Regions from separate parts of the Homo sapiens genome. Here region 1 is linked to region 2. The links come from fine-mapping of genetic effects on gene expression. A gene starts in region 2. The other region holds a variant in brackets. All regions are shown on one strand. Distances are between the middles of the regions.

Evidence for each region.
Region 1: its variant is fine-mapped to the expression of SIRT6 in pancreas (GTEx, PIP 0.95).

What each region holds. Positions count from the first base shown.
Region 1 is chr19:4,154,087-4,159,562 of GRCh38, reverse strand. CREB3L3 (cAMP responsive element binding protein 3 like 3) reads right to left here. Exons shown (of 10, transcript NM_032607.3): 2 at 4,536-4,664; 3 at 2,268-2,568. Among named protein-coding and RNA genes, the nearest start is that of CREB3L3, 3.2 kb to the right of the region's middle. The variant C/G (reference allele first, on the strand shown) is at 2,189.
Region 2 is chr19:4,180,548-4,185,765 of GRCh38, reverse strand. It overlaps SIRT6 (sirtuin 6), which reads left to right and starts at 3,203. Exons shown (of 8, transcript NM_016539.4): 1 at 3,203-3,292; 2 at 4,857-4,984. The coding sequence starts at 3,227. ANKRD24 (ankyrin repeat domain 24) reads right to left here and starts at 3,077. Exons shown (of 22, transcript NM_001393985.1): 1 at 3,026-3,077. RefSeq lists enhancers at 3,020-3,069, 3,140-3,229.

The DNA of each region.
Region 1 (5,476 bases), 26 kb after region 2:
AATCCCAACATTCATATGACTTCTGCCAGAGTTTGGAGTCCCCAAGGCCTGAGTTGAAGGGGGCAGCCCTCACTAGTGACTCGGTCTCCCCTCTGCTATAAGATGGGAACCCAGCCAGTCATGGTGGCTCACGCCTGTATTCCCAGCACTTTGGGAGGCCAAGGCAGGCGGATCATCTGAGGTTAGGAGTTCAAGACCAGCCTGGCCAACATGGTGAAATCCCATCTCTATTAAAAATACAAAAATTAGCCGGGCCTGGTGGCGTGCACCTGTAATCCCAGCTGCTCGGGAGGCTGAGGCAGGAGAATCACTTGAACCCGGGTGGTGGACGTTACAGTGAGCTGAGAATGTGGCACTGCCCTCCAGCCTGGGTGACACAGCGAGACTCCATCTCAAAAAAAAAAAAAAGATGGGGACCCAAATTCAACAGGGCTTGGTTCTGTCCGTCCCACAAGGCTGAGGAAGACACAGGACATTGTCAGGAGACACCGGCTGATTCAAAAGGGAGTGGCTGTTATCACACAGAATTACAGGCTAGATTTGCAGCCAGCCAGGCGTTATCTCACCCAAGGGGCAGGGACGAGGTCTGATTCACCTCTGGTTGTCCCCTCCTGGTAGCCGGCATGCAGTAGGCATGCTGTCCCAGCACACAAACTTTGGGTCAGGTAACCCTTGGTTCTAATCCTGGTTGGGCAGGGCTGTGTGACCTTGAGTAAGTGACTTCACCTCTCTGAGCCTCAGATTTTTTTTTTTTTTTTTTTTTGAGACGGAGTCTCGCTCTGTCGCCAGGCTGGAGAGCAGTGTGGCAATCTTGGCTCACCGCAACCTCCACCTCCCAGGTTCAAGAGATTCTCCTGCCTTAGCCTCCCGAGTAGCTGAGACTACAGGCGCCTGCCACCACACCCAGCTAATTTTTGTATTTTTAGTAGAGACAGAGGTTTCACCATGTTGGCCAGGATGGTCTCGATCTCTTGACCTCGTGATCCGCTCGCTTCGGCCTCCCAAAGTGCTGGGATTACAGGCGTGAACCACTGTGCCCAGCATTTTTTGTTTTTGGCTTTTTTTCGAGACAGAGTCTGGCTCTGTCAGCCAGGATGGAGTGCAGTGGCATGATCTCAGCTCACTGCAACCTCCGCCTCCCGGGTTCAGGTGATTCTCCTGCCTCAGGCTCCTGAGTAGCTGGGACTACAGGTGGCCCCCACCATGCCCGGCTAATTTTGTATTTTTAGTAGAGATGGGGTTTCACCATGTTGGCCAGGCTGGTCTTGAAGTCCTAACCTCAAGTGATCCGCCTGCCTCAGCCTCCCAAAGTGCTGGGATTACAGGCATGAGTCACCGCTCCGGGCCTGAGCCTCAGTTTTGTCAACTCTCCAATGGGACCAAGAAGAGCTCATAGCAAGGGTCAAGGGACAAAGGCCACCCAGAGGCCAAGTATCTCCAGCCAGGGCTCTGCCTGGCCCGCCGGGAATGCTTAATCAATAGAGTAAATCATTACTGATCTGCTGTTCCCCACGTCTAGGAGGAGCACCCTGGAACCTAGGACCTGGTAACCTCATGCACTTTTATTGAGCATCTACAGGCTGGGTGGAGCGGCTCACACCTGTAATCTCAGCACTTTGGGAGGCTGAGGTGGGCAGATCACCTGAGCTCAGGAGTTCAAGACCAGCCTGGCCAACATGGTGAAACCTCGTCTCTACTAAAAAATAAATATTAGCTGGGCATGGTGGCATATGCTTGTGATCCCAGCTACTCAGGAGGCTGAGGCAGGTGAATTGCTTGAACCTGGAAGGCAGAGGTTGCAGTGAGCCGAGATCGCGCCACTTTACTCCAGCCTGGGTGACAGAGTGAAACTCTGTCTCAAAAAATAAAAATAAATAAAAAATAAAAAAAAATCTACTAGGAACCAGGCACGGGGTACAGACACGTAGAAGGCAAGACCCTGACTTTGGGCTGTGCTTGTCAGCACCATGCCTGGTGCCTGAGCCACCTGCCGGGGTTGCATCCTAGCTCTGTGGTTTTAGCTCATTGCTCAACCTGACAGGACTGTTTCACGATCTGGAAAATGGGCTCCCAATAGCATCCACGTGAAAGCATGGAAACACCTAGCCAAGGGAGACACGTGTCCTGAGTTTGAGTCTGGGCCCAGCTCCAAATTGCTGTGTGACCTTGGACAAGATGCCAGCCCTCT[C/G]TGGGCCTCCATTTCCTCACTTACAGGAAGGGCCCTGGAACAAGGTGAGGGCGGTGGGCAGAGACACAGCAGGACTCACCCAGGTCTATGGTCACAGAGGCTTCAGGTACTTGGATCACTGGCCCTGGGGTTGTGGTGGAGCAAGAGTTGCCAGGATGATAGGAGAGGCAGGGCCCCTTGCCAGGCTGGGCAGGATGGCAGCCGGCGGGGGAGGTGGCTGGTCCGCTGCGTGGAGGGGTGTCCTGGGGGTCGGAGGGGAGGTCTTCGGAGATGCCACTATCACTGCCTTCGGGGGACCAGAGTGGGGAGCTGGGCAGTGAGTCTCCAGAGCCCAGGATGGAGCTGAGGAAGTCGTCAGAGTCGGGGTTTGGCAGGACCTGCTGGGGTGGACAGGGAGGGGTAGTAGGAATTAGGAAGTGCTCACTCTTTTTAGATTAGTGTGTGGCCCCAGGGAAACCAGTGACCCTCTTTGGGCCTTAGGTGTCCTTCCCTTCTCCAAGATGAGTTACTGCTTCTTCCTCCCGGGGCTGCTGAGGCTCAAACGCAGTAACATAGCATAAAAATCCCAGCCAGTGCCAGGTGCAGTGGCTCCTGCCTGTAATCCCAGCACTTTGGGAGGCCGAGGAGGGCGAATCACTTGAGGTCAGGAGTTCGAGATCCGCCTGGCCAACATGATGAAACCCCATTTCTTCTAAAAATACAAAAAGTAGCTGGGCGTGGTGGCGGGCATCTGTAGTCCCAGCTACTCGGGAGTCTGAGGAAGGAGATTCTGAACCCGTAAGACGGAGGCTGCAGTGAGCCGAGATCACGCCACCGCACTCCACCCTAGGCAACAGAGCAAGACTCCATCTCAAAAAAAAAAAAAAAAGAAAAAAAGAAAAACAAAAGAGCCAGGCACGGTGGCTCAGGCCTGTAATCCCAGCACTTTGGGAGGCCAAGGCGGGCAGATCACCTGAGGTCGGGAGTTTGAGACCAGCCTGACCAACAGGGAGAAACCCCGTCTCTACTAAAAATTCAAAATTAGCCAGGCATGGTGGCACATGCCTGTAATCTCAGCTACTCGGGAAGCTGAGGCAGGAGAATCACTTGAACCTGGGAGGTGGGGGTTGCGGTATGCCAAGATCACACCATTGCACTCCAGCCTGGGCAAAACAACAGCGAAACTCTGTCTAAGAAAGAGAGAGAGAGAGGAAGGAAGGGAGGAAGGGAGGAAGGGAGGGAGGGGGAGAGAGAGAGAGACAGAGAGAGAGGGGGGGAGAGAGAGAGAGAGAGAGAGAGAGAGAGAGAGAGAGAAACGAGAGAGAGAGAGAAAGAAAGAGAAAAAAGGGCCGGGTGTGGTGGCTCACGCCTATAATCCCAGCACTTTGGGAGGCCAAGGCAGGTGGATCACCCGAGGTCAGAAGTTCAAGACCAGCCTGGCCAACATGGTGAAACCCCATCTCTACTAAAAACACAAGAAATTAGCCGAGCGTGGTGGCGGCTGCCTGTAATCCCAGCTACTCGGGAAGTTGAGGTAGGAGAATCACTTGAACCTGGGATGCGGAGGTTGCAGTGAGCCAAGATCGCGCCATTGCGCTCCAGCCTGGGTGACAAGAGTGAAACTCTATCTCAAAAAAAAAAAAAGAGAGTAAAAGAAAGAGGGAGAAAGGAAGGAAAAAAGGAAGGAAGGAAGGAAGGAAAGAGAAAAAGAGAGAGAAAAGAAAGAAAAAAAAGAAAGTGGGCCGGGCGCGGTGGCACACGCCTGTAATCTCAGCACTTTGGGAGGCTGAGGTGGGTGGATCACAAGGTCAGGAGTTCAAGACCAGCCTGGCCAGGATAGTGAAACCCATCTCTACTAAAAATACAAAAATTAGCCAGGTGCAGTGGCGGGCGCCTGTAATCCCAGCTACTTGGGAGGCTGAGGCAAGAGAATCGCTTGAACCCGGGAGGCAGAGGTTGCAGTGAGCCGAGATGGCACCACTGCACTCCAGCCTGGGCAACAGAGCGAGACTCCTTCAAAAAAAAAAAAAAGAAGAAGAAAGAGAGAAAGGAAGGAGAGGAAGGAGAAGAGAACCGAACCTAGCCAGGGAGATGCCCCAAGTTTGAGTTTGAACCTAACTCCAAATTGCTGTGTGACTTTGGATGAGTTTCCACCCTGCTCTGGGCCTCCATTCCCCACCTGTAAGAAGGAGCTGATGCTACCCGCTAAATGATGTGCTTGGCTAAAATCAAGCACCGTGACCCATTAGTGCATCGTAGAGCTGAGCAGAGCTCTGGCTGGGCTCTGGCGGGTCTAGCACCTTCGTGGGGCCTCAGTTGGCCCGCCTGGAGCTCTGTGGTCCCGGGGCAACTGCAGTGGACTCCTCACCTGGTCCTTGACGTGACCCCAGCCCTCGCCCAGCTCCACGTGTCTCAGGATGCCGTCCTGCCGGTCAAACAGGAGATCCAGGAGCTCAAAGCTGTCGATGGGGTCCATGGAGCAGGCAGCAGAAGCCATCTGGGGCGCGAGGAACAGATGTGAGGGTCACATACAGCCCCTGTCCTCCCCACCTCCCATGTGCACATAACCCTGGCTCTTTCCGGCTAGAGTTCAGTTGCCGCTCTGCCTCCGGGTTGGGCCAGCTGCTGCCCCTCGCTGAGACTCCCTTTCCAAATCTGGACTTTGAGGCTGATAGAGAGAATTCCACAGTGTGAGAGCCAATTTCTCTTAAAGTGCTGGAGAGGCTGGATGTGGTGGCTCATGCCTGTAATCTCAGCACTTTGGGAGGCCGGGGCAGGAGGATCACTTGAGCCCAGGAGTTCAAGACCAGCCTGCGCAACATAGAGACCCCTATCCCTACTGCAAATAATTTAAAAAAATTAGCTGGCTGCGGTGGCACACACTTGTCGTCCCAGCTACTGGGGAGGCTGAGGTAGGAGGATCCCTTGAACCCAGGAGGTTGAGGCTGCAGTGAGCTATGGCCACCCCACTGCACTCCACCCTGGGTCACAGAGCAAGACCTTGTTTCAAAAAACAAAAAAGTATGGCAGGCACGGTGGCTCACATCTGTAATCCCAGCACTCTGGGAAGCCGAGGCGGGCAGCTCACCTGAAGTCAGGAGTTTGAGACCAGCCTAGCCAACATGGTGAAACCCTGTCTCTAGGAAAAGTACAAAAATTAGCCGGGCGTGGTGGTGCACACCTGTAATCCCAACTACTTGGGAGGCTGAGGCAGGAAGATCTCTTGAACCCAGGAGGTGGAAGTTGCAGTGAGCTGAGATCGTGCCATTGCACTCTAGCCTGGGTGACAGAGGGAGACTCCATCTCAAA
Region 2 (5,218 bases):
CCAGGGCTGACGGCTCTCAGCACAGAGGCATGTTTGCTACATAGTCAGAGGGAACCTCCATGTGACAGCAATTCACCCATAGTGGGTGGAGGTCTGGGGCAATGGCTGCATGCATGTGTGTGACGTTGAGTGTGGGGCGTGTGCACACGTGCACTTCTGTCCACCTGGGCCTGTTCTACGTTCCGCATGGGCAGGCACGGAGGTCAGGCAGGCCTATCTTGAGGGGGTGTGTTTTTTGAGGGGTGTGACTGTGAGGCCCTATGTGTGAAAGGGATTTCTGTGATGGAGAATCTGTATTTGCCTCTTACCAAGGAGTAGGGGTTGGCATGGCCTCTACCTGTCCACCTATCTACTCGTGAATTCTCCAAGCCACCCTTCCACGCATTTACCACCTATGCACTCACCTGGACATCCATCCTCCCACCTAAGCACTGTATAACCACCCACTGGCCACCACCCACAAACCCACCCACCCAATTCATGTTCTCATGGTTCTTCATCACCCTTTAATCAGATTTCACCCACACATCCATCCACCCACCCAAACACCTACCAACTCCCACCATTCATCCATCCACTCATCCACCCATCCATCCACTTATCCATCCCTTCATCCATCCACCCAACCACCCATCCATCCATCTGCCCAAGCATCCATCCATCCACCCATCTGCCCACCCAATCACACACCCATCCACCCATCCACCCACCCACCCATCCACTCATCCATCCACTTATCCATCCCTCCATCCACCCACCCAACCACCAATCCATCCATCCACCCACCCACCCACCAGTGCATCCATCCACCCACCCACCAGTCCATCCATGGATCCTTCCATCCATCCATCCATCCACTTATCCATCCCTCCATCCATTTGCCCAATCACCCACCCATTCATCCATCCACCCATCCATCCATACATCTACCCATTCACCCATCTACCAAACCACCAATCCACCTATTCGCCCCCCATCCATCCACCCACCCATCCATTCATCTACCCCTCCACCGGTGCCCATTCACTCACTACCTACCCTTTTTTCTTCTACCTCTGACTGGAGGATTCAATCACACCCAAAGCAGGGGGTAATAAGACACCCAACAGAGGAGTTCACAGGCTGCTTGGGAGAAGACAATCCGTGGGCTTGGGGGAGGGAGAAACGCCTGCTAAATTTAGGAAGCTGCTTGCTGGAAGAGGTGATGGTAAATAAGAAGGGCCTGATGGCCGGGTGGGATGTTGAGCACCTGCCTTGGAGGAAGCTAGGCAGGGCACAGGCCGGCAAGTGGGAAGTGCGTGGGTGAACGAGTGCATGTGTGTGTCAGGGTACCTGGGTAGCTCCGCAGCCTGGCTAGGACTCAGCACGGCTTCTTTCTCCCACATACAAGGGCTCAGGGGCCTGGGGCCATAAGGGGATCCTCCGTCCTGGGCCTCTCCCACCTCCTTCCTCCCCTACCTCCTGCAGCTCCAGTGCCCCGAGCTCCCGGCCACAGTGCCCACTGCCGGCTCCGGTTACCCACTCCCAGCTGGGCCACGAGCAGCTCCAGCCGCTCCACTCTGACACCTGATCGGCTCTGAGCAGGCGGCCGCCCCAGGGGGCCGGGGATGAGCCGAGGGAGGAGACAGGCTGGCAGCGGACTGCCTGTTGGCCAACTGGCTCTGGCGGGAAGACACCCACGATCTTCCCTATCATCACTGGACTGATTTCAGTTTCTGGAAGGAGCCATGCTCTTCCTCTTTCTCAGCCTTTGCACTTGCTGTTCCCCCCACCAGGAACATTCTTTCTGTACTTCATGTCACCCCAACCGGCTCTACCTGACTCATGCACTCTTTATTTATTTATTTATTTATTTTTGAGACGGAGTTTCATGCTTGTTGCCCAGGCTGGAGTGCAATGGCGCGATCTCCGGCTCACCGCAATCTCCGCCTCCTGGGTTCAAGCAATTCTCCTGCCTCAGCCTCCCGAGCAGCTGCGATTACAGGCCACCACACCCAGCTAATTTTGTATTTTTAGTAGAGACGGGGTTTCTCCATGTTGGTCAGGGTGGTCTCGAACTCCCAATCTCAGGTGATCCACCTGCCTTGGCCTCCCAAAGTGCTGGGATTACAGGTGTGAGCCACTGCGCCCGGCTCACTCACTTTTTAGATCTTTGCTGCAACATCCCCTCCTCCAGGAAGCCCTCCCGGATGCCCCCAGCCTGGGTCAGGTGCCTCCTGTGAGCCCCCTCACTGCCCTGTGCCCTCTGCATCACCCATTGCACCCCAACCACACCATGTCACCATTACCTGGTCACATGTTTGTGTCCACCCGCAGCCACCAGGGCATAGATGGTACCACCTTTGCTCTCCAGTGTGCCCAGTACAAAGTAGGTACTCAACACATGATTCTTAAATGAGTCCTCCAGGCCACCAGCCCCATTGACCTTGAGCAGGACCTGTCCTGCAGAATGCAGAACCTCCAGTTGGATGATACTCAGATAACTTGGCCGGACGCAGTGGCTCACGCCTGTAATCCCAGCACTTTGGGAGGCCGAGGCGGTCAGATCACCTGAGGTCAGGAGTTCGGGACCAGCCTGACCAACATGGAGAAACCCCGTCTCTACTAAAAAATACAAAAATTTGCTGGGTGTGGTGGCGGGCGCCTGTAATCCCAGCTACTAGGGAGGCTGAGGCAGGAGAATCGCTTGAACCCAAGAGGCGGAGGTTGCAGTGAACCGAGATTGCGCCACTGCACTCCAGCCTGGGCAACAGAGCGAGGCTCCGTCACACACACACACACACACACACACACACACACAAATGAGATATTCAGGTAACTCTGCGTGGCATTCAAAACCCTTAGGCTGGGGTCCCTGCTGTCCGGCTCTGTCCTTACGGAATTTACTAATCCGTAAAAGGGGTTGTGGGGACATGGATAGCCTGTGTCCCGCATTTTAGAGGTGACTGGAGAACTCTCACGTAGGCGGCCGCCCCAATTTCCCGCCCGGGTCATCGGGGAGCCCCTTCCCAAGCCCCGCAAACACCTGCATGCAAAGAGGCAGGCTTCCTTCTGACAGCAGATAACATGTCGCCTGCGGCGTCAGCAAGAGGCGCATGCGCCTTGCCGTGGGAGGCCGGGTGCGCAGGACTGGAACGCGGTTCCTCCTTCTTCCCCGCCCCGCCCCGCTTCCGGCGGAAGCGGCCTCAACAAGGGAAACTTTATTGTTCCCGTGGGGCAGTCGAGGATGTCGGTGAATTACGCGGCGGGGCTGTCGCCGTACGCGGACAAGGGCAAGTGCGGCCTCCCGGAGGTGAGCGCGTCTGAGGGTCCCGAGCATCGCGCCCCAGGGCCGCGGGCTGGGAGCGGCCGGATGGCAGGGGGGCATTGTGGGAATATCAGGGGGCACTGAGGCTAGACAATGGGAGGGACTTCCCAGTGAGGAAGGGGCGGGAAGTGACGCCCCTGCGCGCCGGGGGACGCCAACACGCCCAACTCTGTGGTCACCCTGTCGGGGCTGATCGGGGAGAGAGGGGATGTAGTTCCAGGAAGAGGGGACGACAGGCGCAAAGGGAGGTGGGAATAAACACACCTGGAGAACGATTAGGCCTGGGAGGTTTCCAGAGCCGGGCCAGGACGGGGCTCAAATGCCAGGCTGGGGAGTTGGCACTTTATCCTGAGGGTGATGGGGAAGGGTTTTGCCCTGGCGAGGGGACTGGACAGAATGTGCCAGAAAGATCCCTCCAGCCACTCAGAGGGGAAGTGGAGGGATCGGCTGCCCCCTCCACGCACTGTGGGACTTTGGGGAAGTCACTTCCCTTTTGGGTCTCCATCTCCAAACTTTCTGCAAACGAGGTGAAGATGGCCCCATTCCATAAGGCTGGCCCATGCATTCTGACTCATGCATTTAATGAGCGCTGATGGTGTGCGCCCGTCCAGAAGCCCCACTCTTCACTGCTGCTGTTAGTCACTTTATTATTATTATTATTATATTTTTGAGATGGAGTTTCTCTGTCGCCCAGGCTGGAGTGCAGTGGCGCGATCTCGGCTCACTGCAACCTCCGCCTCCTAGGTTCAAGCGATTCTCCTGCCTCAGCCTCCTGAGTAGAGTAGATGAGACTACAGGCACCTGCCACCACGCCTGGCTAATTTTTGTATTTTTAGTAGAGGCGGGGTTTCACCATGTTGGCCAGTCTGCTCTTGAACTCTTGATCTCAAGTGATCCACCCACCTTGGCTTCCCAAAGTGCTGGGATTATAGGCGTGAGCCACCATACCCGGCCTGTTAGTCACTTTATTCCACCAACATTTATAGAGCACTTACTGTAGCTCAGGCACTTTCTAGGTACTAAGGCCACAGCCAGGAGCAACACAGATTAAAAACCCCTCCTTCTAGTAAGGGAGACTGACTAGGGGTTGCATGGAAACCAGTTGGCCAAGGGAGGCATCACTGTCACTGAAGTGACATCTAAGCCACAAGTTACAGGAGGTGAGGGAGGGAGCCATGTGGGTATCTGGGGGAAGAGCATTAAAGGGTGTGGCCCTGAGGCGGGACTGTGCCTGGTGTGATAGAGGAACAAGGAGGAGACCTGTGTGGCTGGAGCAGAGTGAGGCAGGGAGAGGGAGGAGAAGAGGGCAGGGAGGGGGCAAGGGAGGTAGTGCAGGGCCTGGTGGGCCGTGGGAAGGGCTAGGGCTTTGACAAGGCAGGTGGGAGGCATGGAAGGTTGTAGGAAGAGGAGGGGCATGAGGACAAGCTGCCTTTTCCAATCCATTTTCCTCCCTCAGGCAAGACAGGGACAGCTCAGTCTGTGGCTCGTGCGTGGCCTTGCCACTTGGGGGAACTGTTTTGACCCCTCCGTCTGCTCTCTCCCCCCACAGATCTTCGACCCCCCGGAGGAGCTGGAGCGGAAGGTGTGGGAACTGGCGAGGCTGGTCTGGCAGTCTTCCAGTGTGGTGTTCCACACGGGTGCCGGCATCAGCACTGCCTCTGGCATCCCCGACTTCAGGTCTGTGATTGTGCAGGGGAAGTCGAGGCAAGGCCTACCAGGCTGCCAGAGGCTTCCCTGCGAGCCACACACATCTGGGAATGAGAACACATCCATCTGCTTTCCTCCTGGATGTGTCCTGGGTACTCCCTTTAAGATGTGTCCCTTGGCTGGGCATGGTGGATCACAAGGTCAAGAATTCCAGACCAGCCTGGCCAATATGGTGAATCCCTGTCTCTACTAAAAATACAAAAA